Regions from separate parts of the Homo sapiens genome. Here region 2 is linked to region 1. The links come from fine-mapping of genetic effects on gene expression. A gene starts in region 1. The other region holds a variant in brackets. All regions are shown on one strand. Distances are between the middles of the regions.

Region 1 (4,519 bases):
TACTCATTTGACTCTCTGGTTACCAAGCATTTTCACATATGAGAGACAGGTTGCTAACTCAAAGTCACGCTGCAGCTGAATCCTGCCCTTCCCATCACGTTCCACTGACTGAATTTTCCCATTCATCTTGTGGAGGTGTTACCCAACCAAGTGTGCTATGCTCAGTTCTCAAACTGCTAGTGAGATCCACTAGGGAAGATCAGAATGAAACTGAGTGGCAACAATTGATTTAAAGTCTCAAGTTGGGCCGGGCACGGTGGCTCATGCCTGCAATCCCAGCACTTTGGGAGGCCAAGGCGGGCGGATCACCTGAGGCCTGGAGTTCGAGACCAGCCTGAGCCAACATGGAGAAACCCCGTCTCTACAAAAAATACCAAATTAGCCGGGCGTGGCATGCCTGTAATCCCAGCTACTCGGGAGGCTGAGGCAGAGAATCACTTGAACCCAGGAGGCAGAGGTTGCAGTGAGTCAATATCACACCATTGCACTCTAGTCTGGGTGACAGAGTGAGACTCTGTCTCAACAAAAAAAAAAAATTCCAAATTGAAGGAAGCGTTAGCAGACTTCATCTCCAGGAAAGGGAAGAAGAAGATACTTAAATAATTAACAAAATATATTTAAAATGAGTGGGAGAACTTCCTCCATTAAACCCTGTTGAAAATGTGTGAGTGGTTGTCATGCCCCAGACATCAAGGAACCCATCCATGAGGTCTTCCCACACAGACTGGCCTCAGGAAGGGAAGGAGGAGGTAGGCCGCTCTGACAGCCACAACCCGAGTTGAGGAAACAAGCAAAGGAACACAGAGAGTCTACATACAGTAAAAGGTGACAGGAGTTAAGCTGCACACAAGGGAAGCAGAGATGGGTTGGAGGCAGTTAAGGGTGCGTTGCTGCCTCTGTGGCTGAGGTGAGTGCAAAGCCCTACATGGTCCCCTGTTTAGAGAAGGCTATTGTTTCAAACATATTTTACTTGGTCCCCGGAGGCAGCATGAAACTATGAAAGAAAGAGCCTTACCCCTTTTTTCAAGGCTCTCCAGACCACAGTTCTGGGATGGGTGTGGGTGGTTGCCATTCGTTCATTTATGCCTGTCTGATATGGAGCCTCCCTCTGTTACCAGCCCTGTGCACTCAAGTGCCTTGCAGTCCAGTGAGGAATAACTGTAGATAAGATGAGATGATGGGCATTAAGTGTAACTGCTGAGAAGCCTTCATAGAGGGAAAGGTGATAAGAACTGAGTTTTTCTGGCATGAGGAGTTTACCAGGCAGGAGAGGTGGAGACGCTAGGCTAGGCAAATAGGCTGCAGCCATAGTTCTGCTGAGAAACAGGTTTTGAACCAAGGCAACTCCATCTGGAGATATGTATCAGAAAGATTAGGAGATAGAATCTCCATCTTGGTCACTTATTTGGTCTTCTAAGACAGCAATGGGACCGTCTCTTAAATACTGGAGTTGTCCTATCTCCTTGGGCTGATACCCTGAACTGTCATTTGGGTGAGTAACACATTAAGGGGTAGACGGTCGGTTTGGGGGAATAAACTAAGTAACTAGGTTGCGGTTCCTCCTGCCGACTAAGCAGACCTCCTGGTGCGTGGTCTTGGGTTGCCCTGTGAGCCCTGAAGCTGTGAATGGGCCCCACAGATCACTCTAAAGCCAAGCATCCATGTGTGCCCGGCTGGGGATCTAGACCCCCCTGGTCTACCCAGGAACCTGAGTTTTGGTGGTCTGAGACACCTGGGGGACGACGTATCCCGGAGAAGGGACCAGGATTAAAGGCCGCTCCCCAGGCTGCCCGGAGACTAGAAGGAAGGCGAGGTAGCCGCAGTCCCAGGGAGGGTCTTACCCCTTGCTCCCGGGATGCGTTATGGCGGGCCTGGCTGTGCGAGATCTAGGCTAGTGGCTTTGGCTGCGAACGGATTAGATCTGATCCGATTAGAGCCTGGGCGGTCGGCTTCGCCCCCTTGCCAGGCTCTGCCAACGCCCGCCCCTCCCTCGTGGAGACCCGGAGACCTCCCTGAGAGCCTTCCCGCCCGGAACACGGGATTGGTGCAGAATCCGAGAGGCTCCATGCGCCCCGGGCCTGGCTTGTTTCCACAGTGGGGGCTCGTGCTTCCGCCCCCTGCGGCTCTTCTGGACCCCGCCCCGACCCTGCGGGTAACTGGGCCCGCGACGTCCCCGCCTCCGTGCTTGCCGCGTGGCGGGTGGGTTCCTCCGGGTCGGGGCCCCGTGCCGCCTGTTCACCTGGGGCGGGACCGTGGCCCCATCCCACAGGTCTCCCGCCCGTGCACCTGCCGCCTAACGCCGCGCGCCGCGCCGTGCGCCTGCCTCGCGCTCCCCGTCCGCCTGCCCCGCACTCCCCGTCCGTGTGTCTCCTAGTCCCCAGCGAGGGGTCTGTCTGTTCCCCTGGCAGGCTGACCAAGGGGCCGGCGTCACCGCTACGTGCGGCGGGGCCGGCGCGGCGGGCGGGGTGAGGGCGGCGCTGAGCGCAGCGGCGGCAGCGGCGGCGCGGGAGGCGGGGAGGCGCGGCGCGCCGGGGACAGCGGCGGACGGCGGCGGCGGCGGCATGCGGCTCCTCGCGCTGCCCATCGTGGGCTGAGGCGGCCGCAGAACCGGCGGGAGGCGCGGCGGCCGGGCGAGCCGAGGGCGCAGCCAGCCGGGCGGACCGCGGACAGCGGTCGGGGCGCCGCGCCATGGGGCGAGCCGGGGGCGGGGGCCCGGGCCGGGGGCCGCCGCCACTGCTGCTGTTTCTGGGGGCCGCGCTGGTCCTGGCCTCTGGGGCCGTGCCGGGTAGGTATGACTGCGCCCGGGACCCCCGCGGCCCTCGTGCCCCACCCAGGGCAGGGGTCCCGCTGGCGGCGGGGACAGGTGGAGCTGTGAGCTGTGGCAAGGGGGCGGGGCACCGCCTGGCCGCGGCCGGGCGGCGGAATGGTCCCAGGAGGTGGTGGGGGTCCGGGAAAGGCCGACCCGCGTGGGGGCCGACCCCGGTTGGGGTAGCCGGGACCCAAGCGCGCGGGCCGCGGTGCGGACTGGGGGCGGGGCCGGGGGCGGGGCCGGGGCGGGGCCGGGGCGGGGCCTGAGGGTGAGACTTCGGGGCGGGACCTGGAGCTGAGGGCGGGAGCCAGTGGACGCGGCTCAGGGTGGGTTCCCGAGGGTGAGACTTATGGGTGGGCCGAGCTGGGGGCCGCCCTGGCCTGGCTCTTCAGACGGCGGGGCAGGTCGGGCGGGGCCGAGCCGCGAGGCGTTGGGCGGGGTGTGATCCTCGTCTTGGGGGCAGACTCCGGGACGGGGCTTAGAGGTACCGGGTGGCTGGGGTCACACTGGGGCGGTGGGGTCTGAGGGTGGCGAGGTCTGGGTTGACCAGGTCTAGGCGAGCGGGCCTGACCGGGGCGGGCCGGGGCTCCAGGGCTCCTCAGCGCGCCGCCCTGACGTCCCGCCCCTTGCCCTCCCGCCCGCAGCGCGTGAGGCGGGCAGCGCGGTTGAGGCCGAAGAGCTGGTGAAGGGCAGCCCGGCGTGGGAGCCGCCTGCCAACGACACGCGGGAAGAAGCCGGCCCACCAGCGGCTGGGGAAGATGAGGCGTCGTGGACGGCGCCCGGTGGCGAGCTGGCCGGGCCAGAAGAGGTGCTGCAGGAGTCGGCTGCGGTGACCGGCACCGCCTGGCTGGAAGCTGACAGCCCAGGCCTGGGAGGAGTGACCGCAGAGGCGGGCAGCGGCGATGCCCAGGCCCTTCCAGCTACGCTCCAGGCTCCCCACGAGGTCCTCGGGCAGTCAATCATGCCCCCTGCCATTCCTGAGGCTACAGAGGCCAGCGGGCCACCCTCCCCCACCCCCGGCGACAAGCTGAGCCCAGCTTCTGAACTCCCCAAGGAGAGCCCCTTGGAGGTTTGGCTGAACCTGGGGGGCAGCACACCCGACCCTCAAGGGCCAGAGCTGACTTACCCATTTCAGGGCACCCTGGAGCCCCAACCGGCATCAGATATCATTGACATCGACTACTTCGAAGGACTGGATGGTGAGGGTCGTGGCGCAGATCTGGGGAGCTTCCCAGGGTCACCAGGAACCTCAGAGAACCACCCTGATACTGAGGGAGAGACCCCTTCCTGGAGCCTGCTTGACTTATACGATGATTTCACCCCCTTCGATGAATCTGATTTCTACCCCACCACATCCTTTTATGATGACTTGGATGAAGAGGAGGAGGAAGAGGAGGATGACAAAGATGCAGTAGGAGGTGGAGACCTAGAAGATGAAAATGAGCTTCTAGTGCCCACTGGGAAGCCTGGTCTGGGGCCCGGGACAGGCCAGCCCACCAGTCGGTGGCATGCTGTCCCTCCACAGCACACTCTGGGGTCGGTCCCCGGCAGCAGCATCGCCCTCAGGCCCCGCCCAGGAGAGCCAGGCAGGGACTTGGCCTCCAGTGAAAATGGCACTGAGTGCCGCAGTGGCTTTGTGCGGCATAACGGCTCCTGCCGGTCAGTGTGCGACCTCTTCCCAAGTTACTGTCACAATGGCGGCCAGTGCTA
Region 2 (4,000 bases), 520 kb after region 1:
ACTTTTCTTTTCTGCTTTATGGTCTGTTCATGGGATGTTAGTTAAATCTGGTATAGGGGAGGAAGTCTTACCATGGACTACTTGTATATATTGATCAACTTTATATGTATTGGTTATCTATTGTGTGAAATATTGCCAGAACTTGTCAGCTTAAGACAATAAGTAACTCAGAAGCAGCTTAGCAGGGTGGATCTGGCTCAGGGTTTTCCATGAAATTACAGTCAAGCTGTTGGCCATGGCTGCAGTCATCTGAAGGCTGAACTAGATATAGAGATTCACTTTCCAACCTACTCACATTGTTGTTAGCAGGCCTCCATTTCTCCCAAGGGAGAACCCTTCATCATGGTAATATTTTTGTGTTTTCTAAAAATCATGGTCAGGCCAGGCGTGGTAGCTCACACCTGTAATCCCAGCACTTTGGGAGGCCGAGGTGGACGGATCACCTGAAGTCAGGAGTTTGAGATCAGCCGGGCCAACATGGTGAAACCCCATCTCTACTAAAAAATAAAAAAAATTAGCCGGCCATGGTGGCTCATGCCTGTAATCCCAGCTACTTGGTAGGCTGAGGCAGGAGAATCGCTTGAACCCAGGAGGCAGAGGTTACAGTGAGCTGAGATAGCGTCACTGTACCCCAGCCTGGACAACAGGGCAAGATGCCATCTCAAAATAAATAAATAAATAAATAAATAAATAAATAAATAAATAAATAAAAATCATGTTTTCTTTTCTTTTTTTTTTTTTTTAGATTATACAAGGCAGAACTTTTTTTTTTTTTTTTTTTTTTTTTTTTTTTGAGACGGAGTCTCGCTCTGTCCCCCAGGCTGGAGTGCAGTGGCGCGATCTCGGTTCACTGCAAGCTCCGCCTCCCGGGTTCACGCCATTCTCCTGCCTCAGGCTCCCGAGTAGCTTGGACTACAGGCGCCCACCACCACGCCTGGCTAATTTTTTTGTATTTTTAGTAGAGACGGGGTTTCGCCGTGTTAGCCAGGATGGTCTCAATCTCCTGACCTCGTGATCCACCCACCTCGGCCTCCCAAAGTGCTGGTGGGATTACTGACGTGAGCCACCGTGCCTGGCCGGCAGAACTTTTTTTTATTTTTTATTTTATTTTAAGAGATTAGGTCTTGCTCTGCCACCCGGGCTGGAGTACAGTGATGCGATCATAGCTCACTACAGCCTTAAACTCCTGGGCTCAAGTGATCTTCCCACCTCCCAAATAGCTGGGACTACAGGTGTGCATCACTGTACCCTGCTAATTTTTTTAAGAGATGCGGTCTCACTGTGTTGCCCAGGCTGGTCTTGAACTCCTGGCCTCAAGCAGTTCTCCTGCCTTGGCCCTCCCAAAGTGTTGAGATTACAGACGTGAGCCACTGTGCCTGGCCAGCAGTACATTTAAAGCTTTGAAAAAAAAATGTTCAAAGCATTATCATCACCACATTTCTGTCTCTCTCCCAGCACTCCTCATTACCCCTTAAAAATGAATTATTGTGGATGTTGAAGACTCCCAACAATGTTTCCTGCACATAATACTTAGTATTAAACAGTAATTTTTACTTCTGTTCATATTTTCATAATGAAGCTGTATTAAAACATTTGTTAAAATGGCCATGACAAGGTATCCTGTTTTAATTACTAAAACCCTAACTGTATTAACTACTTTCATTTTTTATGATCCTTTAAAGCAAGTTTTATGTATTTTATATATTTGTCTTGACTTGAAGTTTTTTATCCCATGTTTTCCTACTTAAAATGATTTTTTTTTAAGATAGTAAGTCAGACTTTATTTAAGAGGAGCCAGTGGGGATAAGTATGGGGACCACTGTGATGGGATCTTGGAGTAGGGGAAAGAGATTTGACTCAATTCCTTAAAATGATTTGTAACCACTTTTTCAAATTATTTACTATTATACTATATGTGTGTGTGTACATATACATATACATACATAAATGTTTTAATGGGTATAATACCCTATTTGCTTATATAGTCATCCATTTTACTGGGGGTAGTCATTTAAATGAAAAGTTATTTTTCATAATTATAAATAGCATTCCATTAAACATGCTTATAGTTTTTTTCTGCT[T/C]TTTGTTTGCTGTTTGGTTTAAAATGACTGTTGTTACAGAAGGCTAGTAAAAATGTGGGCATTATTGGTCATCAGGTGTGAATTGTTTGTGTGTGTGTGTAGGGAGAGAGTATGTTTCATTCTCCCTCCTACAGAATGTTTTGGGTTTTGGTTTTGGTTTTGTTTTACTGTCAGTTTGACTTGGGTATGAGCCATATTCTTTCTTGGACCAAGCCATTAGTTTTGAGTTTTTCCCTAAAAATATGTATCAGGGATACAGTAAAAATGGTTTATGTCTATCCCCATTCCTATTCCTGAAATAGGTCCCATCTCAGTACTAGAGCCTAAGCAACAGCAATGAAAGATATCCATTAAAGACTCCTCAGTAAAGAGCTCCCTGGTCATATGATTTTTCTTATAAAATAAAATCCATTTATTCCTTCCCAATGAGAAAAAAAGATTCTCTTGGTTTTATTCATTAGCCCTAAGAGCCAAGCATCACAATTTACTTGCTTCTAGTCTTTCATTCTGTCCCTATCAAGAAGTACTTACTGATTCCCTAATCTACTTTGTGTGTACTTAAGTAGTAGGTAAATGGGCTGTGGTGGTTCAACTATCCTTCCGTTCCCCACTGTGTGAGATTAATTGATCAGATGATACTGGGCTTTGGGGGTATTGAGAAACATAGAATATATTGTTAGTATGTGTTTTGAGTCCTGGTTTATCATTTACTGTGCATCCTAGAAACAGGCATTAATATTCTTGAGTCTTTGTTTTCTCATCTATAAAATGAGCAGAATGCCTCAGAATGGTTTGATTTGCATTAAGATAAGGGATATTAATAATGATAGATTCAAAGCACCATATACCTTGATGGTTACTTACACAAATAGTTACCTTAATAGTATTCAGGGGAGATTATTGACATTAATGGGCTGTGAAGTAACATCTGGTCATGTTCATCCATCTGTTGTCTAGCCCTAAAAATCTGACCTCTAGGAGCCTTGAAGTTTGTGTTGTTGAAGCCCAGTGTTAACCATACAACATGGCTACTCAGAGTTTGCAAGCTGTGATAACCTTGGCGGTGAAGTAATATGTAACATGATATAATATACATTTACGTCTGTGTATCTACATATTCAGTATCTTTAATATTTGGAGCAAATGTGTTATCAGAGGTGACTGATTTTTTTACACAACTGCATACTAAACATAAAAGCTCAATTTTAACAGAGGTCACGTAATTTGTAGTGGTCTTGTGACACTAATAAGTGACTTACTCTCACAAAGTTATACAAAATTACATCTCAAGAGTTTGAGTGCTTAGACTATAATTTTTCATTTTAGGTTGGTGCAAAAGTAGTCATGGCTTTTGCTGTTAAAAATGGTGAAAACTACTTTTGCACTGACATAGTATAAAGTGAAGTGATCCAGATATAAAGTAATAATGATTTTTTATTATTCTAGAGGTGGTAACAGAAAAATTGTATTTTTCTCTCTATAACCTATTGGACCTTCTCACATTTCTTCTGTAATTCCCATTAGAAATCACATTTTAGGCCGGGCATGGTGGCTCACTCCTGTAATCCCAGCACGTTTGGAGGCCAAGGTGGGCAGATCACCTGAAGTCAGGAGTTCGAGACCAGTCTGGCCAACATGGTGAAACCCATCTCTACAAAAATACAAAAATTAGCTGGGCATGATGGTGGGTGCCTGTAATACCAGCTACTGGGGAGGCTGAGGCAGGAGAATCATTTGAACCCAGGAGGTGGAGGTTGTGGTGAGCCAAGATTGCGCCATTGCACTCTAGCCTGGGAGACAGAGCGAGACTCTGTCTCAAAAAATAAAAAAAAGTCACAGTTTAAAGATACTTCTAGTGGGTATATATTTGAGAAACTAGCATTCGTGTAACAATTTTTTTTTATTTTTGGAGACAGAGT

The links. PIP is the estimated chance that this variant, and not a neighbour inherited with it, causes the effect.
Region 2: its variant is the best candidate, but not a certain one, in a credible set for the expression of CSPG5 in sun-exposed skin (GTEx, PIP 0.78).

What each region holds. Positions count from the first base shown.
Region 1 is chr3:47,576,863-47,581,381 of GRCh38, reverse strand. It overlaps CSPG5 (chondroitin sulfate proteoglycan 5), which reads left to right and starts at 2,517. Exons shown (of 5, transcript NM_006574.4): 1 at 2,517-2,785; 2 at 3,454-4,519. The coding sequence starts at 2,689. RefSeq lists an enhancer at 1,188-1,892 and silencers at 3,017-3,066, 3,107-3,166, 3,217-3,306.
Region 2 is chr3:47,052,806-47,056,805 of GRCh38, reverse strand. The region is part of intron 15 of SETD2 (SET domain containing 2, histone lysine methyltransferase); the gene reads left to right. Among named protein-coding and RNA genes, the nearest start is that of NBEAL2, 75 kb to the right of the region's middle. The variant T/C (reference allele first, on the strand shown) is at 2,082.